3 separate regions of the Homo sapiens genome follow, and all the other regions are linked to region 2. Evidence: fine-mapped expression QTL. A gene starts in region 2. Each other region holds a variant in brackets. All regions are shown on one strand. Distances are from middle to middle. Region 1 has its middle 45 kb from the start of RALGAPA2. Region 2 holds the start of RALGAPA2 (Ral GTPase activating protein catalytic subunit alpha 2). Region 3 overlaps RALGAPA2 (Ral GTPase activating protein catalytic subunit alpha 2).

Evidence for each region. PIP is the estimated chance that this variant, and not a neighbour inherited with it, causes the effect.
Region 1: its variant is the best candidate, but not a certain one, in a credible set for the expression of RALGAPA2 in whole blood (GTEx, PIP 0.71).
Region 3: its variant is the best candidate, but not a certain one, in a credible set for the expression of RALGAPA2 in whole blood (INTERVAL, PIP 0.78).

What each region holds. Positions count from the first base shown.
Region 1 is chr20:20,753,308-20,761,717 of GRCh38, forward strand. No RefSeq gene overlaps it. Among named protein-coding and RNA genes, the nearest start is that of RALGAPA2, 45 kb to the left of the region's middle. The variant T/C (reference allele first, on the strand shown) is at 3,983.
Region 2 is chr20:20,709,053-20,717,462 of GRCh38, forward strand. It overlaps RALGAPA2 (Ral GTPase activating protein catalytic subunit alpha 2), which reads right to left and starts at 3,592. Exons shown (of 40, transcript NM_020343.4): 1 at 3,323-3,592. The coding sequence starts at 3,428. RefSeq lists a silencer at 3,483-3,742 and enhancers at 3,734-4,028, 3,853-4,052.
Region 3 is chr20:20,634,419-20,642,828 of GRCh38, forward strand. RALGAPA2 (Ral GTPase activating protein catalytic subunit alpha 2) reads right to left here. Exons shown (of 40, transcript NM_020343.4): 6 at 6,283-6,460; 7 at 5,367-5,482; 8 at 2,945-3,083; 9 at 1,000-1,199. Among named protein-coding and RNA genes, the nearest start is that of RALGAPA2, 74 kb to the right of the region's middle. The variant T/C (reference allele first, on the strand shown) is at 4,722.

The DNA of each region.
Region 1 (8,410 bases), 44 kb after region 2:
TATCAATTGCTCTTTTTTCTCTTTCTTTCTGATCAAATGTTGAGCTGTGAAGAGATGTTCCCACTATTACAGGAGCTGGGCAGCCTAGCTTTGAATCCCTGGTGACTTTACTTGAAAGCTACTTTACCCTCTCTGAGCTGGAGTTCTTCATCCTCAGAATGGAGCTAATTAAAGTACACGAGTTCAAGCAATCCTTCACCTCCTCTGGGAGCTACAATCCATACATCCCACTGTATCTTTGCTGTCCCTCAACCCCCGACATCTTCCCTTTCCTCTTAGCCCAGCTTAAATTCCACAGCCACTCCTTTGCCTAAGCTCTCAACTGCCTTACCCCTTTCTCTTACCAGTTTTCTCTTGACAATTCCCTGACCCTGATGAAGTCCAAAGCACTGCCTACTTTGTGCTCGCACCTGGGCCACTGAATGTGGCTGGACAACAGCATTGTCACACTAACTGCTCTCCCTTTAAGTTCATGATTATGGACTTCAAGTGGGACCCTAATGATGGTTGGTAAAGCCCATGTATTGCCGCAGACCACTTACTTTCCCACTGAAATAACAGAAGCAAGCAAGTAAGAACTTAAACTTCCTTCCACCACGATGTTTACCACTCACCTGCTTCTGTGCTCATAGACTCTGCCTTTACTTCTGTAACCATGAATAAACTTGCTGAGCTCCAGCTAAGGCCATTCCCTCCACCTGTGTTATAAAGTCATGGACCCTGTATCCTCTTATCTCTCACAGAATTGGCTCCAGCAATTCACTCCTCTCTCTTTTGCATCATCCATTTCCCACCCTTTGCTGCATCATTCCCATCAACATACGTACTGTCTGTCTTCAACCTCAACCAAAGCCTTTCTCCTGGCCCCACTCTCCTCTCCAGCTACTGCTTCATTTCTCAAATCTGTTTTTTTAGCAAAACTCCTAGAAAGAGTAGCCATTACTGGCTGTTTCCAATTCAATTCCCATTCTTTTCTTAAACCCACGTTATTTCAGCTATGCCTCACCATTTCCAGTGCCTTCTACATCCTTGATTCAGCAGTCGGTTGGTTCTCCGTCATCATCTCCATTTACCTACAACGGCCTTTGACAGAGTTGAGAACGTGCTTCTCTGAGAAACGACATCTTTATTTGGTGTACCAGTTACTGGGACTGCATAATAAATTACCCCAAAACTTAATGGCTTAAAATAACCAACTCATTCATTTTGCTCATGAATCTGCCATCGGGACAGGACTTCATGGGCACTACTCATTTCTGCCCCACTCCATGTCAGCTGGGATGGCTCGAAGGTTGGGATCTAGAATGATCTGAAGTTCTTTCACTCATATGCCTGGTGCCTGGGCTAGGAAGACTCAAACACCTAGAGGCTGGAACACTTAGGATCCTTGTGCCTCTCTGTCTCTGTCTATCTGTTCTCTCTCCGTGGTCTCCCCAGCATGGCAGCAACCATAGCATTGTGGCCAGACTTCTCACCTGTAGGCTTGGGCCTCCCAAGGCATGTGTTCCAAGAGAAAGAGGCCAGACAAAAGCTATTTTGTGGTGTCTTTGTCATCTAGCTTTGGAAATCATCCAGTTTCACTTTTACCATAGTCACAGGCCTGTCAGATTCCCAGGGAGGAAACATTGTCCCCTACCTCTTGAAGGAGCAGTGTTAACCTCACATGGCAAGGGAGATAGTGGTGAGGCTATCTTTAGAAAATCGAACCATCACGCCTGTAATCCCAGCACTTTGGGAGGCCAAGGGGGGTGGATCATCTGAGGTCAGGAGTTTGAGACCAGTCTAGCCTAGATAGTGAAACCCCATGTCTACTAAAACTACACAAAAATTAGCTGGGTGTGGTGGCGGGCACCTGTAATCCCATCTACTAGGGAGGCTGAGGCACAAGAATCACTCGAACCTGGGAGGTGGAGGTTGCAGTGAGCCAAGATTGCGCCATTGCACTCCAGCCTGGGCAACAAGAGCGAAACTCTGTCTCAAAAAAAAAAAAAAAGAAAATCGACTTATAACCTATGGCTTCTGGGGTAGGAGTTCCTTCTCATCTGGCTTTAGGAATTCCTCTCAATCTTTTCTATCCCTTAAATTTGGAGTCCCCATGGCTCTGTCTTTGTACTTCTCTTTTTCACTTCCTTCTTTTTCTTGGTAATCTCAAAGAGTCTCATGGCTTTCAGCCTATATTCTAATGATTCTCACATTCACATGTTTATATCAGACCTCTCCCATGAATATCTCCTCAGTATCTCTTCTTGGATGTCTAATGGGGATCTCAAACATAATTTCGCAGAGATAGAACTCCAGATCTTCCCATCCAGTGTGCCCCAGCCATACCTTCCCCCTGCAGTGATGGCAACTCTATCCTGCCAGTTGGTCAGGTGCAAACCCCATCTTTGCTTTCCTCCTTCTGTCACACCCTCTACTCATGGATCAGCAAACTCTTTTGGCTTTGTCTTCAAAACACATCCAATATCTAACCACTTTTTATATCTTAACTTCTACCTTCTTGATTCAAGCCACCTACATTATCTCCAACAATTACTCACTTTCTTTGACTCAAAGCTAGAACTCTCTTTTTGTTGCTGCTGTGCATTCTGTCATAGTTTCACAGTCAAGTTGCGATCAACTTGGAAAACAGAGCTGCAAAGTGTACATATTTAAGAAGTGTCCCAACCACCTTGATGGGTGTCTTCTTTCCAGCCCTAAGCTGCCTCTGATGGCTTGTAGCAGGGTGAACAACAGTATCCCTCACCTGGTGTTTGGAGGCTGATATGGCATTAGGTCAAATCAGGGTAGGTGCAAAGGTCGTGTTCTGGGTGAGCAGAATGGGACATTCTATTGCAGGGTTTTTGTTTGTTTTGTTTTTGAGACGAAGTCTCACTCTGTCGCCCAAGCTGGAATGTCATGGTACGATCTTGGCTCAGTGCAACCTCCGCCTCTACAGTGCAAGCAATTCTCCTGCCTCAGCTTCCCAAGTAGCTGGTACTACAGGTGCATGCCACTATGCCTGGCTATTTTTTTTGCATTTTTAGTAGAGATGGGGTTTCATCATGTTGGCCAGGCTGGTCTCGAACTCCCGACCTCGTGATCTGCCTGCCTCGGCCTCCCAAAGTGCTGGGATTACAGGCATGAGCCACCGTGCCCGGCCTATTGCAGGGATTTTTAAAAACAAAATTCTAAGCGTGAACCCATCTGAGAATTTGGTAGAAACCACAGACATCTTTCCCAAAAAAGGCAAGTACGACATAAGAAAATAGCTTGAGGAGGTCCATGGTGGAACATTGCCATCCATTCCTGAATTCTTATGTTCCATGTCCTTGGGTAAAGAGCTGGTTCCTTAAAGACCAAGGACCAGGAGCTATTAATAGCTGATTGTCTCCATGCTTTGACATCACTTTTATCCTATCCTCATGGCCACGGGTGTGGGGTCGAGGATAAGAACTGCCTCCTGAATTATCAAGAATGCTACCTCCAAAAAAACAGTTTGTCACAGTGATTAATAACGCAACTGCCTAGTTCTGTTTTAATCCTTGAGTTGTGAGAAAAAAGTACTATGTTTGGAAGAATGGTCCTGTTTTTGTGTCCTACTTTTAGGCAAGCAACATCTGCTATAATCTCGGGAACTTAGTTACTTGATTGGTCAATTATTTTTAAATGTATTTACAAAAATAGAAGCTGAATGATTTACACTAACGTCTAATTATTCCTTTTTATTATTCCAGGGAGATTTTAGAAGTAACTACAAAAGTAAGAATTCTCTTTGTCTAAGACATGGCAAACAAGATTGTAAAACGGGGTCTATTGGGCTTCATCAAACTTGAATTGGTAATGGAACACCTATATTAAGGAATATTGTAAATTCAGGAACACGCCTTATGAGAGAATGTTTGACTGCGGTTTTCCAAAAGGGCTGAAATAGTTTTCACTATTACATTTGCAGTCGTGCACATGGAGTGAAAAATGGGCAGAAATCTGGTTTATTTCTTCA[T/C]TGCATATATTTTAAATGTGTGAGTAGTAAGAAATTGCCTTATATTTCAACTAGCTATGCTGCTTTGCAGTAACAATAACTGGAATAATTAATACACTGGATTTGCACCAACTTGATTGGAAGGATTTATGTTTACGTCCCCCACCCAGCAGAGCTGAATTAGGTAGGCAACTCGTGGTTCCAACTTTTTTGCACTAAAGGCCATTTTGAAGGTATGCACAACCTACCATGCAATTGTTGACAGCCTGAAGGTGCTGAATGTGTAAAAGGGAGTGTAAGGAGTTAGAGCAGTAGTGAATTTTTGCAAGTCAGAAAAGGGTGGAGAAAAGAGGTAACAGTGAGCAGACCAGCTCCTGATCCCCCTCAAATATTGATAATGACATAGCATGCATGAAACCCACGAAGGAGATTACAGATTAGGATTCAGCGTCATATCTTAATTCAGGTTCCCCAGAAGCAAATTCTAACATTAATTTTTTTTTTTTTTTTTTTGAGACAAGGTCTCTCTCTCTACCGCCTAGGCCAAAGTGCAGTGATGCAAGCTTGGCTTACTGCAGCCCCGACCTCCTGGGCTCAAGTGATCCTCCTGCCCCAGCCCCCGAGTAGCTAGAACTACAGGTGTGCACCACCATGCCCAGCTAATTTTTGCATTTTTGTTTGTATTGTTGTTGTTGTTTTGTTTTTTTTGTAGAGACAGGGTGTCACTATGCTGCCCAAGCTGGTCTCAAACTCTTGGCCTCAAGTGATTCTCCCGACTTGGCCTCACAAAGTGCTGGGATTACAGGCATGAGCCACCATGCCCAGCCCCTAAGATTAATATTTGTGTGAAAGTGATTGATTAAGGGAGTGCCCCCCAGGGACACACTAAAGAAATGGGAAAGCAGAAAGGGACAGGGAGGAAGCTAAGCAAGGTTGCAGGGTCTAGCAAAGTCCTGCAAAGTATGACTTCAGCCTGATCCTGCAAAGGACTCTGGGATGTAAGTCACACCTCAGAATTGCACCCTGAGACAGGGAGCTGAGCTCCCAGCACCCAATAATCACTGGAGGAGTAACTTCCCAGCACTCCAAGTTATTTGCACATTTGCACAAAATGTTTACATTTGCACAAAATTGTTCCAGTAGTGGAAGAACATACCTCCAAAGAGCGTAGATCAGGCTGTTGGAAGGAAAGCACACCCAAGTTTGAAGTGTTGGTGGGGAGTAAGGGGAGTGGCACACAAACACAGTGAAAAGGCATTCAAGAAAATATAGACACAGTGGGCTGGGTGTGGTGGCTCACGCCTGTAATCCCAGCACTTTGGGAGGCCAAGGCGGGTAGATCACGACGTCAGGAGTTTGAGACCAGCCTGGCCAACAAGGTGAAACCCTGTCTCTACTAAAAATACAAAAATTAGCCGGGTGTGGTGGCACGTGACTGTAATCCCAGCTACTCGGGAGGCTGAGACAGGAGAATTGCTTGAACCCGGGAGGCAGAGGTTGCAGTGAGTTGAGATCACACTATTGCTCTCCAGCCTGGGCTACAGAGCATGACTGTCTCAGAAAAAAAGAAAAAAAAATTCTAGACAGAGTGCTGACAGTGCCTGCTATAGATCACCCAACCTCTGGGAGCCTAACCTGTGATTTAGGAAGATGGGGATTTGTCCAGTCCAGGTGGTGGAATCCCACCAAACATGACCACAAACAAGAGTTTTTATGATTTTTGTTTGTTCATTTGTTTTGTTTTGTGTTTTGTTTGCTTATTTGTTTGTTTTTTGAGACAGAGTCTCACTCTGTTGCTCAGGCTGGACTGCAGTGGCCCAATCTCAGCTTATTGGAACCTCTTCCTCCCGGGTTCAAGCAATTCTCGTGCCTCAGCCACCTGAGTAGCTGGGATTACAGGCATGCACCACCACGCCTGGCTAGTTTTTGTATTTTTCGTGGAGATGGGACTTCTCCATGCTGCCTGGGCTGCTCTTGAACTCCTGGCCTCAAGTGATCCGCCTGCCTCAGCCTTTCAAAGTGCTGGAATTACAGGCATAAGCCACTGCACCAGGCCAAGTTTTTATAGTCTTTACGGACAGAATAAACTACCTAGCTCTGGACTTTGTGACATGATTTTATCAGTCACTTCCTTGTTTTCTTGTGTATCTGAGCTTTATTCAGTGCCAGGACTCTAGGGCAGAAGTTAAAAAAAATAAACTGGAAACAGTCATTGTGCATGCAATTGAAAATAAACAAAACGTTCCAGTGCTCTTTGTGCAGAAGATTTATTAACAAGTGTTTTTTGTTCGCTGGTAAATCAGGGGCTGTGACACTTCTTTCCTTTCAAATGGATTGCTGCAAAAGAAATTATAATAATTATAGCTTTGAGAATAATTTAATAATTTGTCAACACTTTTTTCCATCCAACAACCAGAACACAACAACAAATAGATGTATTTTTAGAAACACACCTGATGTTTTGCAGAAAACCATGAAGAAAACTACGAAAACATATTGAAAGAAAAATGTTAATCAACCTGTTCCTCACAAGATAATATCTGAGCAAATATGTACAAGAAGATATTACAGGATGATTATTTCTAATTAGATATGGGCATATGAACAATAAAGGTAATTAAACATATAGTGCCATGGAACATTCTCTATGGCCCAAATCATTGATATCAAATAACTTTAACAGTGAGATTACTATCCACATAACTGAGAAATAAATCAGGTTAAGCAAAGATCATGCCGCTTCATTATTGTTCATTTTGAGAGATTCATTTAAAACAAATTGATTTGGTCGAGCATGGTGATTCATGTCTGTAATCCCAGCACTTTTGGAGGCCAAGGTGGGCAAATCTCTTGAGGCCAGGAGTTTGAGACCAGCCCAGGTAACACGGCAAAAACTCATCTCTACTAAAAATACAAAAATTAGCCAGGTGTGGTGGTGCATGCCTGTAATCCCAGCTACTCAGGTAGCTGAGGCACGAGAATCGCTTGAACCTGGGAAGTGGAGGTTGCAGTGAGCCGAGATTGCACCAGTACACTCCAGCCTTGGCAACAGAGTGAGACTCTGCCTCAAAAATAATAAATAAATAAATAATAAAGCAAATTGATTCATTAGTCACCCAAATCATTTATTCTCTAAGTATAGATCAAACTATTCATGGATTATCTTTTTTGTGTTTTCAGAGACCCCTAAAATATTAAAGAATAATTCCAAATTATAGATAAATTATTTACAAAATAGTAGTCTTAAGCTACCAGTGTGTACCTGGTGATTTTTTGCTGAATTCTTTTTTTTTTTTTTTTAAGTTATAACCTGTATACAGCAAAGGGCAAAAATTGCAAATACACAGCTTGATAAATTTTAGACATGTCTACAGCCATGAAACCAACAAGACATAGAATGTTTCAAGCTCCTGAAAGGCTGTCTTGTCCCTCTCCAGGACCCCCCCAGAGGCAGCCACATCAGCATAGATGTTTTGTTTGCTTTTGAATTTCATGCATGTGGAATCCTACAGTATATATAGCCTTTTGTGTTTCACTTATTTTGCCCAACATTATGTCTGAAATTCATCCTTGTTGGTGTGTTTCTTACTTCTTTAACTACATAATTTTCCCTAAAGAACTTAACAAACTTTGATAGTTAAGGCTTATCTTTTGTATTGGACAGATTTGGAGGATTGAAACTAAGCTAAAATTCTTTGCCTTGATTGACTTGCTCTAATCCCACAGTCTCAAATTGTCAAAGGAAACGTAATGTTTTGTAATACCATAATAATTTTGAACAATTCTACTTGCAATTTCGGTAGCGTTCTATATTTATTGATTATTAAATCAGGTTGCATTTCCACTTCCAAACTAGAAGACAGATGAAAAGCTATCTGGCTAAATAAAATTTTCATCACATAAATTCATTGACTTGCCTGAGGCTGTAAGTGCAATTTAACTTCAGCCTCATCTAAAAACCTCCATGGGCTGATGTCTGAACAGCTATTTCTCCTACACTAACAACTAAAATGCAGTTGGTAAAGGGATGAGACATTCACCTTAGATGGTTGCAAAGGTATTCATCCATTGTGAGGTACAGAAAGACTTAAGGTCCTCCTGAGGTTCTTTGTAAATGAAAGTGACCTCAAGATCTGAGGCAAAGAGCTACATGCACAGATAAGAGAAACAGGCTGTGAGCAAGGTTACCCCCGGGCAGTCAGCAATCTGCAGAGGGGTTGGCTGGTGTGGCTGGCCCTCTGGGTTTCCTTTGGGCCCTCTATCTATTAGGCAACACTTCCTGGCATTGAATTTTTCTGGATGGCATGATGCTTAACAAAAACACTCCAATAAGCTGCAAAAATCAAGCCTGTCACTGAAGCTCAGAGAACAACTTCTGCTAATACAGTGTCAAAATAAATCATCAATCAATGAATACTCTCTGATCAGACAGAATGGGTAATAAGTGGT
Region 2 (8,410 bases):
TCACACCTGTAATCCCAGCTCTTTGGGAGGCCGAGTCGGGCAGATCACCTGAAGCCAGGAGTTCAAGACCAGCCTGGCCAACACGGTGAACCCCTGTCTCTACTAAAAATACAAAAATTAGCCAGGCATGGTGGTACACACCTGTAATCCCAGCCACTCAGGAGGCTGAGGCATGAGAATTGCTTGAGCCCAGGAGGCGGAGGTTGCAGTGAGCCAAGACGGCACCACTGCACTCCAGCGTGGGTAACAGAGTGAGACTCCATCTCAAAAAAAAAAAATACAAAAATGAGCCTAGTGTGGTGGTACATGCCTGTAGCCCCAGCTACTCCAGGGGCTGAGGTGGGAGATTACTCGAGCCAGGGAGGCCAAGGCTGCAGCAGTTGAGGCAAGGTCAAACTACTGTACTCCAACGTGGACAACAGAGCAAAGATCCTGTTAAAAAAAAGACATGGAATCTTTGCTGGAGCAATATGGTAATACACAGGGTTTTTTGGTTTTTGTTTTGTCAACAGTGTAGGAAGAACTGGAAGTCACAGGACCTAACAGCTCTTCGTTCTTCCTCTAACATAAGTAAACCGTCTGCTACATGGCTTGATACGTGTCAAGCCTGCCTGTGCCTCAGCTTACCCCTCTGTAAAATAAAGTTAATCATACCAGACCAGTCTATAGCCAGGTGAAAGTATCTACATCCAAATTGGAGTTATTACCATGATACTAAGAAATACTCTACTTCCACAGCTAATTTTATGTTTCTCACCCAGTTGTTTTAAATACAGACTACTTTTTAGGAAAAGAGAACAAATTCATCACTATTATCAAAAATAAGAAAGACGGAGAAAAATTACCTATCAAAATACTGGTCCTATCCTATTAATGGTGGGAGATATGTAATGGGAAAGAAACTGTTAAAGGCCTACTTCAAGCTGAAGTCATTTATTCATCATACTCACAATAATCCTTTAAAAAGCAAACATTACCATACCCATTTTACAGAGCAAAGAAACCGAGGTTCAGAGACAGGCTACGTAACTAGCTCAAGTCATGAAGCTGCAGGCGGCAGGGACAGGCTGCAAATACCCAAGTAAGTGGCATAATCTTTGCATACTTAAAAAAAAACTTTATTATCACTTGAAGATAAAATATATGAAAAGCAAAAGTGTTATATAAATACACACATAAAAATACAATAGTAATTACTATTCATTTCCTTCAAATAGTTTCCTTAATCTTGGCTTAATTCCTAACTTTCAGTTCAAGAGGCCTTTGTTTTCTAAGTAGACTTTTTTTCGAGTAGCAATGAAATAGAATATGTGATTAGGTAGGAACTAGTGCATTACGTACTACTTTTTAAGTCTTTAATAAATCACAGGAGCAAGTGAAAGTTTACATTAAATATTATGACTAGAATTCCTCAGACACATTTTACAAAAATCTAGTCCCTACAAAGATCACAGTAATAAACAAAGCAAACTGGGCCACTCCACTAGTAAGTATATCAACAAAAAACATACACCTAAGGAAATATAAAAGAACCTCTCCATGTTACAAAACTGAGGTCATGATGAGTTCAGTGAAATGATAAAAGAAAGTTCCCTAAAATAAGACCTACACCTTAGAGTGAAACTACAATTTTACAAACTTGAAAAGAATCAACTTTCTCAGAATGGGAACAATGTACTGTGTGCTAAGAAATAACCTGATCTAGGTTTACTTGATTCTGCCTTTATAAAATGTAGCCAACTTAATCTTGCAGACCTGGACAGAACAAAAATTTAAACGCTAAAGCACAGAAAAAGGCTCAAAGTATCAAACGCTTTAAAACACAGCTCAACTCTCCTTTATCAAAAATGTCCCTGCAGTAGGTGTTAATCAGTCACTACCAGGAACTCCACACAATGCAACCTGTGTATTGTGCAACCTGTGCGTGCATGGTATCTACAGGAAGTAGAAAATTCAGTTTACCAAGAACGCCACACTTCACTCTCCACACTTCACTCTCAAAAGTCTTGAAAACGAATCCCTGTAACAGCAACTAATTTACATTTCATTTCAAACTGAACAAGTCAGTGTAACCTCAAGGTATGTGAGATTGTGAATAACTTCACTTGGCAAAATCAGGTGTGGTTTGGTTTGGCTTGGGTTCTTCTCCCCCTCAGAGGTAGAATATAAATAGAAATAATCAGCAACTTCTGATCTCATGAACAAGATCTTTATTTAAAATCTTCACACGTTAAATCATTTTATGCAATATTCTTTCAAGTGACAGACACATTAGCACTAGGCGATTTTTGTGAATTTTGGGACTAAAAGACACCTGGAAGAAACATAAGGTGTTCTTTCCTTCGCCACCAAATACACAGGTAAGTGTGTCTATAGATAGCAAAGGTGTTTTCATCCCAAAGAAAAGTTAAGACTTAGGATGTAAAAAAATACAGAAAACAAAACATAGCCTAGGCGAACCAGCTACAGATCACATGCAGCAGGTGACAGGAAGCCTTGTGGACACCTCACACCCACAGGGGCGAGCTTCATCACAGGTCAACTCCAAGCCCACCTGAGCTCCTCAGAACCTCCACCTGGCAGGCCATAAACCAGAAGGTGGCAGACAGCATCACTGTCATGCCGGTAATAAAGGAGAAGCAGCCTCCCTGAACCCAAGAAAACCACCCCTCTCTCCAAGCAGGAAGAGAAGGCCCCTTCACACCAAGGACACAAAGAAACTGAAGCAGCCAGACCCAAAATAAAAATTAAATTTAAAAAGCAGCATGGGAAGACAGATGACAAATCTGTGCTGGGATCGCCTGGAATCTCGGTCTATATGGGGGTCTCACACTCAAAAGTAAAAATAAAATTTAAAAGGGGGATGACAGAGATGAGAGCCCAATTAGGTCTGTGCTGGGTTCACTTGGGGTCTCGGTCTACTTAGGGTCTCAGACTCAAAAATAAAATTTTAAAAATGAAAGGGGGAGGTGACAGTTCAATGTGTGCACGTGATGACCACTTGGGATCCAGTTCACTTGCTGGGAGGACAGGGGACAGGTACCTCTGTGCCCGGCCTCCAGGTTCTCCGGGAGCGCAGGCGCCCAGCGAGAATCTGGGCTAAGTTTAACTCGAGGGCGACGGGAGCAGTGCCCGAGGGCCAGGCTGCGGCTTTCTGGAAACAAAGCCCCGGGGGTCCAAGCCCAGATCCAGGGAAGGGGGTCGGACGCCCACCCATCCCCCTCCCCAGCCTCCCAGCCACCGACCCCTGCACAGAGGAGCGCCCTCCCGGCAGGTGCCCCTAACCCGGCGCCCCGACCCCCGCGCCCGGCGCGCGCCTCACCCAGCAGCGCCCGCAGGTGCTTCAGGCGGGTCAGCACGTCCTTCTTCGGGTCCAGCACCTTCTGGGTGGACTTCTTCACATCCCCGTGGCTCCTTCGGGAGAACATCCCGCGGCAGGAAGCCCGGGCCCCGCCGGCGGGGCAGTAGGCGCCTGCGCCACGCGAATCAAAGCATAGGGTCGAGGCCGGCGCGTGTCGCGCGGGCCACTCGCCGCCCCCAGCCCCGCTGCTGCCGCCGCCGCCGCCGCCGCCGCCGCCTCAGCTGTGTCTCCAGGAAGGAGGGGCGGGCCGGTCACGGCGAGGGGCGGGGCAGGAAGGCGGTGTCGACGGGGAACCGAAGGCCCCGCCCCGCGGGAGGTGCCGGCCGGCCCCTTGGGCGCTACGCACGCGCACACAGGCCGAACTCTCCTGGCGGGACACTAGCCCGTCCGCGCCAAAACCTAGCGGGGACGCGCTCAGAGGGCCGAGAAGGCGCCTCGAATCACAAAGGAGCTTCTCTCACGCACACGTTGTACTACAAGTCCCGAGATGCACCGCGAGACAGTCCTCCAATCAGGCTGGCGGTCTTCGGCACGATGGGAGTCAGTGGGCCGGCATTGGGCACGTCGCCCCGCCCTGCCGCGGGCCGCAAGTGCTCCTGGGAAATGAAGTTCTCCAGCAGGCGACGCGCTGCGACCTCTTTTCCAGGGTCGCAGAAGCGCAGGGCGGCCTCTGTCCGTCCCCTGCCCCGGCAGCCTAGATCGCCCGTGGTTTCACTCTCCCTCCTGCGCGCCCACCCCATTTTCCTCTAGTGCAACGTGAACCACACACGCCCAAAAATCTCAGTAAGAAAAGTGTCAAGGCTTTTCAAATGCAAACTATTTTTAGGTTTAGCTTCTGGATTCACACAAGGGAGCGAGTCGAAGCCCCTCTGACCGTGCCGAAATCGCAGCTCTAATTTCACACTAAAATGAGTTGCTTTGGCACTAGGGAAGAGCGTGCCCCGGTGAGGAGTTCAGCCGGCCCCTAGGTTCCTGGAACCCAACCTCACTTGGGGTATGGAGGTCGCTCGCTCAGAGGGCTCCTTGGGATCTTGCCTCTTTGTAGGAAGGGTGCGTTCTCTGTTGTGCAAGCCACATGGCGATCCAGTAGCAGAACCAGAAATAGAACCTGAGGGATCTGACTCAGGCCTGTATACTTTTTAAAGCCAGGCGCTTATTCCCTGGGGCAAGACTTTGAGCTGAAAGATGGTCAGGAGATTTCTTACACTGTAGGATTGTATAGTGGCATCCGAATCCTGCAAGTTTTGACATCCTTTCAGCTTTTTCAGCAAGTACTTAAGGTAGAATCACGTGGTTTCCATCCAAATTGGGACAACACAACTGTCTTTTTCTCCTCTAGCTGAACTGTAACTTGAGGGAAGAGACAAGGATTTACACGCCTTTGTATCCCCATCCCTCAGCACAGTATTTGGCCCATAGGGTCACTCAATAAAAGTTTATTAAATGAAATACAATAAAAAGCTAAAGTAGTCCTACATATTTCAACCAGGCAGGCGAAAAGGAAAAAATAAATAAATAAACTCACAGTTTTAGAGCGTCTCTCTATTTTTAGATTTGTGTAATATTCCTTTGTATAGACACATTCATACAAAGGAATATTACTCAGCAATAAAAAAGAACAGACTACTGATAAACCCAATAACATGGATCACTCTCAGACCCGGAGATGAAAGCCCCATGCTCAAGATGATGGCAGAGCGGCCCTACCAGCCTGAGTCCCCAGATGATAACAGATCAGGACCACAAACTTCTAAAAGTGTAACAAGAGAGCAAAATAATGTCTTATCTTAAGTCAAGGCATTTTGAGAGTCTTCGTTACAGCAATTGAGCTTGTACCTGATTACACATAGTAAACCACAATGTTCACTGTCCAATTCCTTTAGGAGAAGATACTTTTCCTTACACTGATTGAAAAAATAGAATATACTTGTCTTAGGAAACTCCATTTTTTTAATTGCAAAGCAAGCTGCCATCATCATCAAACATTTATTGAGCACCTGCAATGTGTAAGGCATGATTCTAAACCCTGGAGATAAAAGATGTATAAGGTGCATCCTCCTGACCTCCAATGCTTCCAATCCAGTTAAGGAGGCTGAGCGATTAGATACATGTGGGAATAAATGACAGTGTACAGTGAACATGTGATACTATCAAGCTTGGTAATGCCAGAAACAGGCATCTGTGCATATAAATTCATCGCACCCATCATATCTAGCCTTTACCCAGTAATGAAAATGTAGAACTCCAATTCTTCTCTTAAAAAGGAAGAAACATATAGTATTATTATGTTGGTACTTTTTCACCCACTTGCATATTCCATATGGCTCTTCTTATTTTCTGTTGTTCTTTCTAAACTCGTTCCTGCTGGGCTGTGAACTCTTTGAGGGCTTCACTTGCTTTGCACTGAATTCTTTATCCCTGGAGTTATAGAGTGCCGAGTGTTATGCAGACATTAAGTGTTGTTGAATAAATGTCCTACAGTAATCAGCAAATAAGAATAATGAGATCAAAAGTTTAAAACTTGCAATGCAAATTAAAACTACTCTGAAATATCATTTGAATTAGAAAAAACAAGCAAACAAAAAACCTCTACAGAGACAAGGTGTGATAACACACTCTAGTCTGGTGGCAGAGCTATAGAAAACATAGCTGGTAGAAATGTTAGATGCTACAACTCTTATGGAAGGAAATTTGGCAAAAATAAATATTTGCCTTTTGACCCAGAATTTCAATTTCTTTTTTTCTTTTTTCTTTTTCTTTTTTTTTTTTTTTTTTTTGAGATGAAGTCTGGCTCTGTCACCCAGGCTGGAGTGCAGTGGAGCTATCTCGCCAGGTCCAAACGATTCTCCTGCCTCAGCCTCCCGATTAGCCGGGATTACAGGCGTGCGCAACCACGACTGGCTAATTTTTTTGTATTTTTAGTGGAGAGGGGGTTTTGTCATGTTGGCCAGGCTGGTCTTGAACATCTGACCTCAGGTGATCCATGGGCTTTGGCCTCCCATGTTTTGTTGTTTTTTTTTTTTTTTGACAGTCTTGCTCTGTCCCCCAGGCTGGAGTGCAGTGGTGTGATTTCAGCTCACTGCAACTTCTGCCTATCAGGTTCAAGCGATTCTCCTGCCTCAGCCTCCTGAGTAGCTGGAATTACAGGCATGTGCCACCATGCCTGGCTAATTTTTGTATTTTTAGTAGAGACAGAGTTTCACCATGTTGGCCAGGCTGCTCTTGAACGCCTGACCTCAAGTGATCCACGGGCCTCAGCCTCCCAGAATGCTGGGATTACAGGTGTGAACCACCACACCCAGCCAGAATTTTGACTTCTAGGAATCTACCCTGCAGATATTCTAATATATAACACTGGAAGGATTTAAAAAAAAACCTTAACATTAATGCCTACCTAAGTGGGATAGAGGATGAGGTGGAAAGGACTCAGTGTCCTCTCTGAGTATATCTTTTTATATTTTTTTCATTTTTGAACCATGTAAATGTTTTCCATATTCAAAAATTGAAACAGAAAAAGACAAGCCTGAAAATAAAAAATAAATGGAAAAAATAAAACTAACAATATATGTAATTGGTAGGATAACTCTATGGAGAAATAAATATAAAACCATGCATGGAAGTTTATTCCTTTCACCACTATTTATAATAGCCAATGTAGTGGGTTGAACAGTGCCCACCCTTCCCCCCAAAAAGATATGTCTATGTCCTAATCCCTGAAAACTGTGACTGAGACTTTATTTGGCAGAAGGATCTTTGCAAATATAATAAGATCCTCAGTTATCTGGGTAGACCCTAAATCCAATGACAAATGTGCTTGTAAGAAACAAAAGAAGTGAAAACATAGAAACAAAGGAGAAGGGCACATGAAGACCAAGGTAGAGATTGAGGTTATGGAGCCACAAACGAAAAGACCCTTATAGCCAAGAGAAACTGGAAGAGGCAAGAAAGGATTCTCCCTTGGAGTCTTCCAGAGGAAGCCCAACACCTTGATTTCAGACTTCAGGATTCCAGAACCGTGAGAAAATAAATTTCTGTTGTTTTAAGCCACGCAATTTGTGGTAATCTGTTGCAGCCACTCTAGAAAACGAGTATGACCAGATACCAGAGAGAACCCTGTGATTGTCTAACAAGGTACTTATATACACATACATCTATAAGTGGCTAATTTAATCCAGTTCATCCACACAGTGTAGCACTATGGAGTACTATGCAGCTGTTTAAAAATAATGGGAAAATTTCGCGTGTACTGACTTGACATAATTTTCCAGATACGTTGTTAAATATAAAAGGAACAGAATATTAAAAATTTTTTTTTCAAAAAGAAACACTGGAAGGATAAATAAAAAGCTAACATCAATTCCTACCTAAGTGGGATGGAGGATGAGGTGGAAAGGAATGAAACAGGGTCCTCTCTGAGTATACCTTTTTATATTTTTTTCACTTTTGAACCATATAAATGTTTTACATATTCAAAAATTAAAATAGAAAAAGACAAACCTGAAAATCAAAAATAAATGAAAAAATAAACCCAACCGTATATGTAATTGGTAGCATAACTATATAGAGAAAATAATTATTTCAAGTGATTTTTGAAAACAGTATTCTGATTGTACCTCCTTAGAGGGATGTATTCTAAGGGCAAAAAGATCTGCAAAGAATTAATAATTATTATTAAGAACCAAGATTTTCAGTGTAAGAGAAAGGAGATACAAAAATATCACATCAAAGAAAATGTGAAAACTCTGTAATACTAGATTTTACTTCAAATATCCATTTGAACTCATAATTTAAAAATACAGCATGTGTTGGCCAGGCGTGGTGGCTCACGCCTGTAATCCCAGCACTTTGGAAGGCCAAGGCAGGTGGCTGAGACTATCCTGGGCAAGATGGTGAAACCCTGTCTTTACTACAAATGCAAAAATTAGCTGGGCGTGGTGATGCATGCCTGTAATCTCAGCTACTGGGGAGACTGAGGCAGGAGAATCGTTTGAACCAGGGAGTTGGAGGTTGCAGTAAGCCGAGATGGCACCACTGCACTCAGTCTGGTGA
Region 3 (8,410 bases), 75 kb before region 2:
GCAAGTCTTTCATTGTTCTTACTGTAACTGCACCTCCCTCAGATCTTAAAAATAAGTTCTCCTCTAACTCTTCAGTGACTTCTCCCCAGTGGAGCCGCATGCTCTAGACTGTTTGGTGTTCCTCCATCAAGGTTCCTAATAACCTTGAAGCACAAGAGCCACTTATCTGCCTCCTCAGGTCTGTGCATTCTTTCAGCTCAGGCCTAGGTCGGAGTTCTGAGACTTCTAGGGCATCGGCAAATCTGCAGTCAGTGGACCAGACTTCCTATCCCTGTTCTTGGGGACAATAAACAAAAGAGCACACAACACCATGATCCCTTAGCGAAGTGGCTGCTCTCTGACCTCCACAAATGGTAGTGCTCCACCAAGTCCCTAAGTAACTCAGCCTGTTGGGAAAGACCCCAATTGTGTATGGCTGACCAAGGCCAAGAGAGAAAAAGCACAACAGGCCCCACACAAGGAGAGGTCTCTTCTGAAGGCCTCTGGGAAGAGGTGGGCTTCTCTTCTAGGGGCCCCACCATTGCTCAACAGCCAGCCCCAAATCCTGAGCTGCTGATCTACTTCCCTCTCCTGAGATGCCAGAGGGTGCTCGGCAGCTTCACAGGTCCTTTCCAGGGGCCACTTACAGTTTCCTAAGTGCCTTCCAGCTACTGGGGCTTGGTGAAAGCAAGACAGGCCTCTGTTCTCATGCTCAGAGGCCACTGGTACTCAAGTGAGGAGAATGAGGAGGAGCCAGGAGTGTGCACACAACAGCTATCTTCTCAAAATGGCTCCCGAGATTGCATCATCATGGCAGTCCCAACAATGCACAGCAAGTGATTCAAACTCACAACTCCCTCTGAAACCTTGGCATTACAGACAGGGTAGGCCAATAAAATCACTTACCTATAACCAACAACTTGTAAGAACCAATAACTCTAACAATCAATAACTTTGGCTATGTTCCAGTGTATTTTATTACACAAGCATTAACAGATAAAAAGATGATGGATGGCATACCTGGATGATTTTAGGCAATACATCAACTCCATTTTTAGTGTTTTGTGTTGCAGTTAGATACTTTTTTTCCAAAAAGAAGGTTACAATCCACTTAATAAAAACAACACGAGCTGCCATATATGGAATCTTTGTACTGTAAATGTTCTCATTGTCTCGAGTGGTAGTAATGTACACAGGCTTTGGTCTCAAATGGGGGATGTCTGGTAGAAGAAAGAACACATGATTGATTAGGTTAATAAATCATAACATTAAGTAATCCCTACAAATGTTTTGGTTTCCAATTAAATCCAATTTTTGGTTGTCTAAATAGCAACTAAGAATGAAGAACCGCAATTATTTAAAATGGCATTTTTTTGGTAGGCTCCTTTCTGATTCCGCCTTGTGATCTGACTGAGAATGAGTGATGATGGTGATTGTTTATGTATCTATGATATACAGCTATGGAAAAACTAAGCTAACAACTATTTTTAACAATTTTGATAAATTACATGAGACTATAATAGTAAACATCTTTTCACATACATTATACCTAATTTAATTTTATTTTATAGCTGGAACAAATGTAAAAGTATATATGAACTTTTAAAACATCATTTTAGGTATTTTAACATCTAACACTGCAGTGATTAAATCCACTGAACTTTAGAGGTTTATATCCTTTTCCCTTTAGATGAATCCAATGAAACAGAATCAATATCATCTACTTTATATTTAAAAGAATTAAGAAAGTCACATTTCACCTTTGAGGCATCAAATGCTACCTTTTCCAAAGACTTAATAAGAAGTCAGTTTCTCATTCTTTAAATTCCATAATCAATATGAAAATTATATGGTATTGGATTTGAGATACTACTTGCCATAAGTTCAACTCTCTATCTTAATAATTTTTGTATATCTGGAATACCTGTATGAGGCAGAAAAATGATCAACAAATAACTTTTAATCTAGGAATATTAACAATATACCATGTTTTTAAAATGAATTTAGACTACATATAAAATCAGAAACAAATTTTGAAAAAATATTCACATATATATAGCTAAAGAAATACATGTCCCAGTGCACCTAAAAGTCAGTAATTCTACATCTTTCAAAACTCACCAAGTTTTGGCTTCTCTCCCCGTGTGTGTGTGTGTGTGTATGTGTGTGTGTGTGTGTGTGTGTGTACGCATACATAGAAACACACAGAGTACAGACAACTGAATCAGGTGACCATGTTCCCCAAAAAAGTAACATCTCGTGTCACCACTTCCCCTCCAAAACTGTTTTTAATTATTCATTTGAACTAGTTTTACCTGTTTTAAATAATAGGGAGAGGAAGATTTGACCCCCACCTTTACCACTCTAAGGGATGCTTCTGTCCTGTGAGTCCTCATTGCTTACAGAAGAAAAAAACATTAGGAGCCAAATTGGAAATTCCTTTCTGTTTCCTAGTCCTCTGGGGCTTACTGTCCATAGCTTGTCCAATCACCTAAAATTTGGTTCTCCATAAGCACCTGTCAGTAGTAGCTGCTGGATGCAGGACCCAGCATAAAATAAAAGGCATACAATGGCAGCTGTTTGCCTTGGGCTGGCCTCCAGTCACTGAGCAAAGCCTGAGGTCGCCATACCCCACCACCCACAAGGAAAGACTTCAGGAAATGCAGAGATTTTTACATTAAAAGATGACAATGTAATTATACCAAAAATATCATAAATACATTTCAAATTATTTCTGAGTATAGGAGCCACGGTTCCCTTTTACTGCTGTAAGCTGAGGTATATCTTAGTTGGTACAAATAATTAAAATCACTTATTAAGAAACTTTAAACATTTAATAATAAAGTTACCATTCAATACAAAAATAAAATGACTATTTTACTTTAAAATAATCAAAGGTCACTTTGAAAGAGACTGCATAGCTTTCCTTTGGATATCCTCTATACACGGCTCCAACAGTACTTACCAAGTACAGGTTTGTAGATGTTTGTTAACTTAGTAAATGATGGAAATAAATGAGGAAGATAATACTTTCGAAACAATGTAAAAAGAAATTTAAAACCAGTATCTTGATTCTCCTTATTCTTCCACTCCAAGCTCGCAGCCTTTGGATAATATGTGGAAAAGAACATATGTATATTTATATTTCAAATTAACATATACTAAACTGAAGTGTTGTTATGTTACTAAAATTCCTAACCTAAATGTAAAAAATGACAAATAATATTGACAATCATGTAATGAAATAATAACAAAGCTCAAAAGATGGCAGGAATGAATACTTCAAAACAAAACAGTAACTATGTTAAAAACAGCATTTTTACTTAGAACCAAATTGCTCAATGATATCGTATCTTTTATAACGTGCTGTAATGTATCATGCCCATATTTTTTCTCTACGTTTTTTGTAATTATCTAACATTCCTTGTGCCTTTAAAACATTTAGTCACAAACAATCAGGTGTTTTTTTCTAAACTCAGAAAAAGGCCATTTATAATAAATAGAAATTAAAGAAACAATCCCTCTCAAGAATTTCAACCAATGTTACCTACATGTAAAACCAATATCAAAAGGCAAAAGCCATGGAATCTTGGAAAATGCATTCTCCGTATTAAAAAAATTCAAAGGCTACGATAAACCAGACATGCCAGTCCACTATGGATTAAGTTTAAATGTTTCATTGTGTTGAGATAATATCCTCCCCCTCAAAAACCCATCAGTGTTTGCATAGTGGGAGCACTCCAAAACTGCTCAATAGCTGGGACCGCCCCTCAGGAGCCAGGAGGACAGCCTGGTTACACAAGTGCAGTCACCCCCAACATGACTTAGGGAAACACAGCCCTTAGATAAGACCTGTTGGTGGTTCTTAATGCTTGTTAGACCACAGAGCACTCTAAAGCAGGGCTTCCCAACTTCCTTCCTGACATGCCCACTTAGAAAATGAAATTTGTGCAGCACCTGAGGTAAAGGGATGAGATGCTTTGGCTACCGCAGGGGCAGCGGGGTTCAGCATCCATAACCTGCCAAAAGCTGTGCTCTGAGAACTCATCTCAATCGACAGAAGAGAAGGCAGAAGGGAGGCACAGATATGCACCTAAAACTCTGCACACAATTAGGAAGTTCACAGTCTGCATGCAAACCTCTATCCTATATCAATTCCATCCGCCTTATCTGAGGTCACACAACTCATTAGTGACACACCTAGAATGAGAACCCAAGGCCCCCAACACAAGTTCTGGATACTCTGTTGATTTTCCAGGATAAACTGAATGTCCAAACACTTCTGAACAGCTGGCATTTGAGATGCATCTAGAATGGGCCATTAGAGTTCAAATGTGGAGTTTCCAGAATATGAAAGCATGCCCCAGTCAGGTTCTCAGGATTGTGAAGTCCTGTGTTTCTGTTGCTGGCTAAAGGCAAAGGGGCAAGGAAAGGGGACAAAATTGCTAAGTATTCAGAAAGAGCAGCCAAGTACTGAATCTTGAGAGACAGCAGAGAAAAGCACAGTTCCCTAAAGAAAACTAGAAAGGAGTGAAAGGAAGGGAGGAGAATTGCCAGAGAAAATATCAGAAGAGGAGAGAATCTCATGAAGGAGGGGTAGTTAAATCCCCTCGAAGAATGAGGAGAGCAAAACCTGAAGTGTGCCCTCCTTCTGGGCTGACCCTAGAACCCTTGTGGTTTGGGGCTTGCCACTTTAGCAGTGACAGGGCAGAAGGCAGCTAACAGTGGGTGTCAAAAGAACA[T/C]GAATGAGGATGTGAACTCAGTAGAGATTATTACTTCAACAACTCGGTTGTGAAGGGGAAGACAGATACTGGACAATACCCAGGATGAACTCAAGGACAAGAGAAGTATTTGCTGAGAAAAAAGAATCAGTACATTTTATTCTAACTATTATTCAGAAATCTAGACCAGGAGTCACAAATCTCCTATTAAAATCATAAACCAGTTACTTCAGTTCTGTAGGCAATTGGTGCATATGAGAAAAATAATACATGACATAAAGGAGGCCTGTGCCAATGGCATGAGGAGATTGCTCCATGTGCTTCCCTTCAGATCCCCTGGTCTGCTCTGCCTATTCCTGTCCACCTGTTCAGCCTCTGGGCCCGCCTCCTCCTTCAACCTGTCTTGCAAGCATAGAGATTAGGGGTAGGAAAGGAGTAAAGAGAGAAAAATGGTTTAAACACACTCACAAAATAGTACATACAGCTGGTCTTGCTGAAGTGACCTAAAAAATGGTACACACTCTGCATTTGCTGAAATATCACATAAAATCACCTCAAAGAAAAAGAAAGAGGAAAAATATAGATACACAGAGGGAAAAGAGGCAATATTTCCTCTTCCTGCTGAGAATAAACCCATCACTGAAATAGTCATAATTTTTCTCTGACCTGAATAACCATATACTTCAACAGTATTTGAAGAAAAAAGCAGGTTTGGTCCTCAGCAATCTTCTCCCCTGATATGGCTGGTAGGAGTGGAGTGATTTCTTCTGGATATATCTTTACTGAAAGGACAGAAAATGATGACAGCTCATTCACCAAAGTTAAATTTTAAACAGAATTTAGGGTTTTAAAAATGGTCTCTATTAAAATACATCTCTCCATCCACTGAAGCAGCTCACACTGAGGAGCACACTCCAAGGCAGTGTGCATAAAGGGCCTGGAAACACAGCCCAGATGCCCACGAAGCGCCTTCTCCTGCTGCACCATTCTTTCCCGTTCAAATTCTGCTTTGGTCAGCCCAAGATCAAATGCCAGTCATTAAGCAATAACGCAATATACAGTAATAAATCAATGGTCCTAACAGGCAAGTTCCTTGAAAACTCACAGGACACAAATGACCACCGTTAATAGTCCCATGAGGCCACTATTGTCCTTCCATAGATGATGCAGGAAAATACAGTGGCAAAATAAGATCCTGGTGAGCAGATGAATGTCCACTTACGAACAACAGTGATAAGAACAATAAAAACAATAGCTTTGGATGGTGGAGTTTAATCTCATTAACAGCCAGAAAACCAGTCCAGACTTCCCATGTGTCTCTACTTCGTGCTACTGCCAACATCTGTCCCCTCCTATTCCTGCTTCCATCACTTCAGTACATTTCTCCTGTTTTCATTTCATATAAAATAAGCTCCAAGTCTTTTGATTCTAAGGTATGTAAGAATCTACAGTGAATATGAAAGGGGAATAATTCCTCTTCAGACTCCATCAGGATTTCTATTCAAGAAAATGAAAAAGTAAGAATTCCTCAATGTAAGTTCAAGAGTAATTTCAACATGGGAGATCTGCTAACATAACTTACCATCAGCTACACTAGGGCTGGGATTGATGAGTGTCTCCAGTGTGCAAGGGCCCCTGGATGACATGACTGCTGGGAAACCAGGCACCAGGCAAGCAAAAATCAGAACCTGCTCTTCTGCACAGTTTGTCTGAAGTGCTTGAAGCCACAGAAGAAACAGCCTGATTCCTTCACATCTTATCTAAAACAAAATTAAAAACAATGAAAATGAAACACATGTATTTACAGAAATGCATTACAATGTAGCATCGGTCTTGAGAAAGAAAAACTACAAGTTAAAGGTGTGTTAAGTAGTAAACCAAATTCTTCACTTAGTGACAAATAAGCAAAGATGCTGCAATACAGCACAAGAGTTAAGAGCCTGGGTTCTGGAGCCAAAGTGCCTGGGTTCAAATGTAAGCGCTGCCACTTTCTAGCTGGGACCCATGGAGAACCACTTAACTTCTCCATGCCTTAGTCTCCCCATCTGTAAAATAAGGATGATAAGACATTTACCACAAAAGACTATGATAAAGACTGAGTTAACATATGTAAACCAAATAACACAATGGCTAACTCCCAGTAAGCACTATGTAAGTGTTTCCTGTTAATAGTATCTTATTCTGTAAGGCAACAGTACCCACGGCCTCAATTATCCATAAAAACAATGACAAAGATAATCTCCCTCCAAATTTACATGTGCTATCACTATAATATGCCATGTTGATAATGTTCTTGAGAATCAGAAGATATGGAGCTAAATAACCTCAATGAGACAGAGCAGCTCTTCTTATACCTTATGTCCCTATTCTATTTCTCCAACACCTTTGCCATGCTCTGAATTGCCAGCATCACGCTGTAGGAGACATCTACATAGGGAGATGTGTCCTTTTTCTTTCTTTACACTTCAAATTTATCCCATTCCTAGAATTCAAAAGCACATGTCCCTCCATTTCTGTATTCCTAAATAACTGAAAAGATTATGTCAATAAAAAAAAAAAAGCAAAAGAGGTTGAAAAAATGTCACATGCAGCTGAAAGATGTAGTGAGCTCCAAATGCCAGCAACTGGAGTGACTGCCTCATCTCCTTTCAATTAATTCAAGGTGGTGCTGACTCCACCAGAGCAAGAATATTGCAAGTCAAACACAAAGCTTTGCCAGAAAACCAAACCAAAAAGTGGAGAAAAGCCTAAATAAATAAATAAAAATATTCTGCTTTCTCCCAATAGAAGCCAAAATACACTAGGACAGACACCCCAGCTGGTGACAGTACTGCCCCATTAACGGGGTAAATTCACAGTGTACTTCCAAACACAGTCCTGGACTCCACCACTGTTCTGCACAAACCTCCATGCCCACTCACACCTGTCCTCCTCTCCCAAGCAGGTAAAATGAGTGGTAACATTACTATTCAGCCATCAGACCGAGAGGGGAGGGGAGGGGAGGGGAGGGGAGGGGAGGGGAGAGAAGGGGAGGGGAGGGGAGGGGAGGGGAGGGGAGGGAAGAGAAGGCTCTATGTATATCTTTTTTCTTTTTTTGAGGCAGGGGTCGGGGGATGGAGTTTCACTCTGTTGCCCAGGCTGGAGTGCAGTGGCATGATCTCAGCTCACTGCAACCTCTGCCTCCCAGGTGGAAGCAATTCTCCTGCCTCAGCCTCCCGAGTAGCTGAGACTATAGGCGTATGCCACCATGCCCGGCTAATTTTTGTATTTTTAGTAGAGACGGGGTTTCACCATGTTGGCCAGGCTGGTCTCGAACTCCTGACCTCAGGCAATTTGCCTGCCTCGGCCTCCCAAAGTGCTGGGGTTACAGGCATGAGCCACTGTGCCTGGCCAGCTCTATGTATATCTAATCAAATTATATTTAATTGAACAAGAGGGAAGTTTCTATGAAATTCTACCACAAGTCTCCAATTGTTATATGTTAACTGTATTTAAGAGAACTAAATATAAATAAGGGTAGTTATAAACATGAGATTAACAACCTGATAGGTTTTAACTACAAGCCTATTTCCTTAAAATAAGAGGGACAAAATATAGAATCTACAGTGACGCTAGGAATAACTCACTTCGTTTTTTTTCAACATGTAAGAAATAGTTAACATATCAAGTTTTCAGAGGCTGTGATTGTTTAAGCCAATGTAAACCAACCA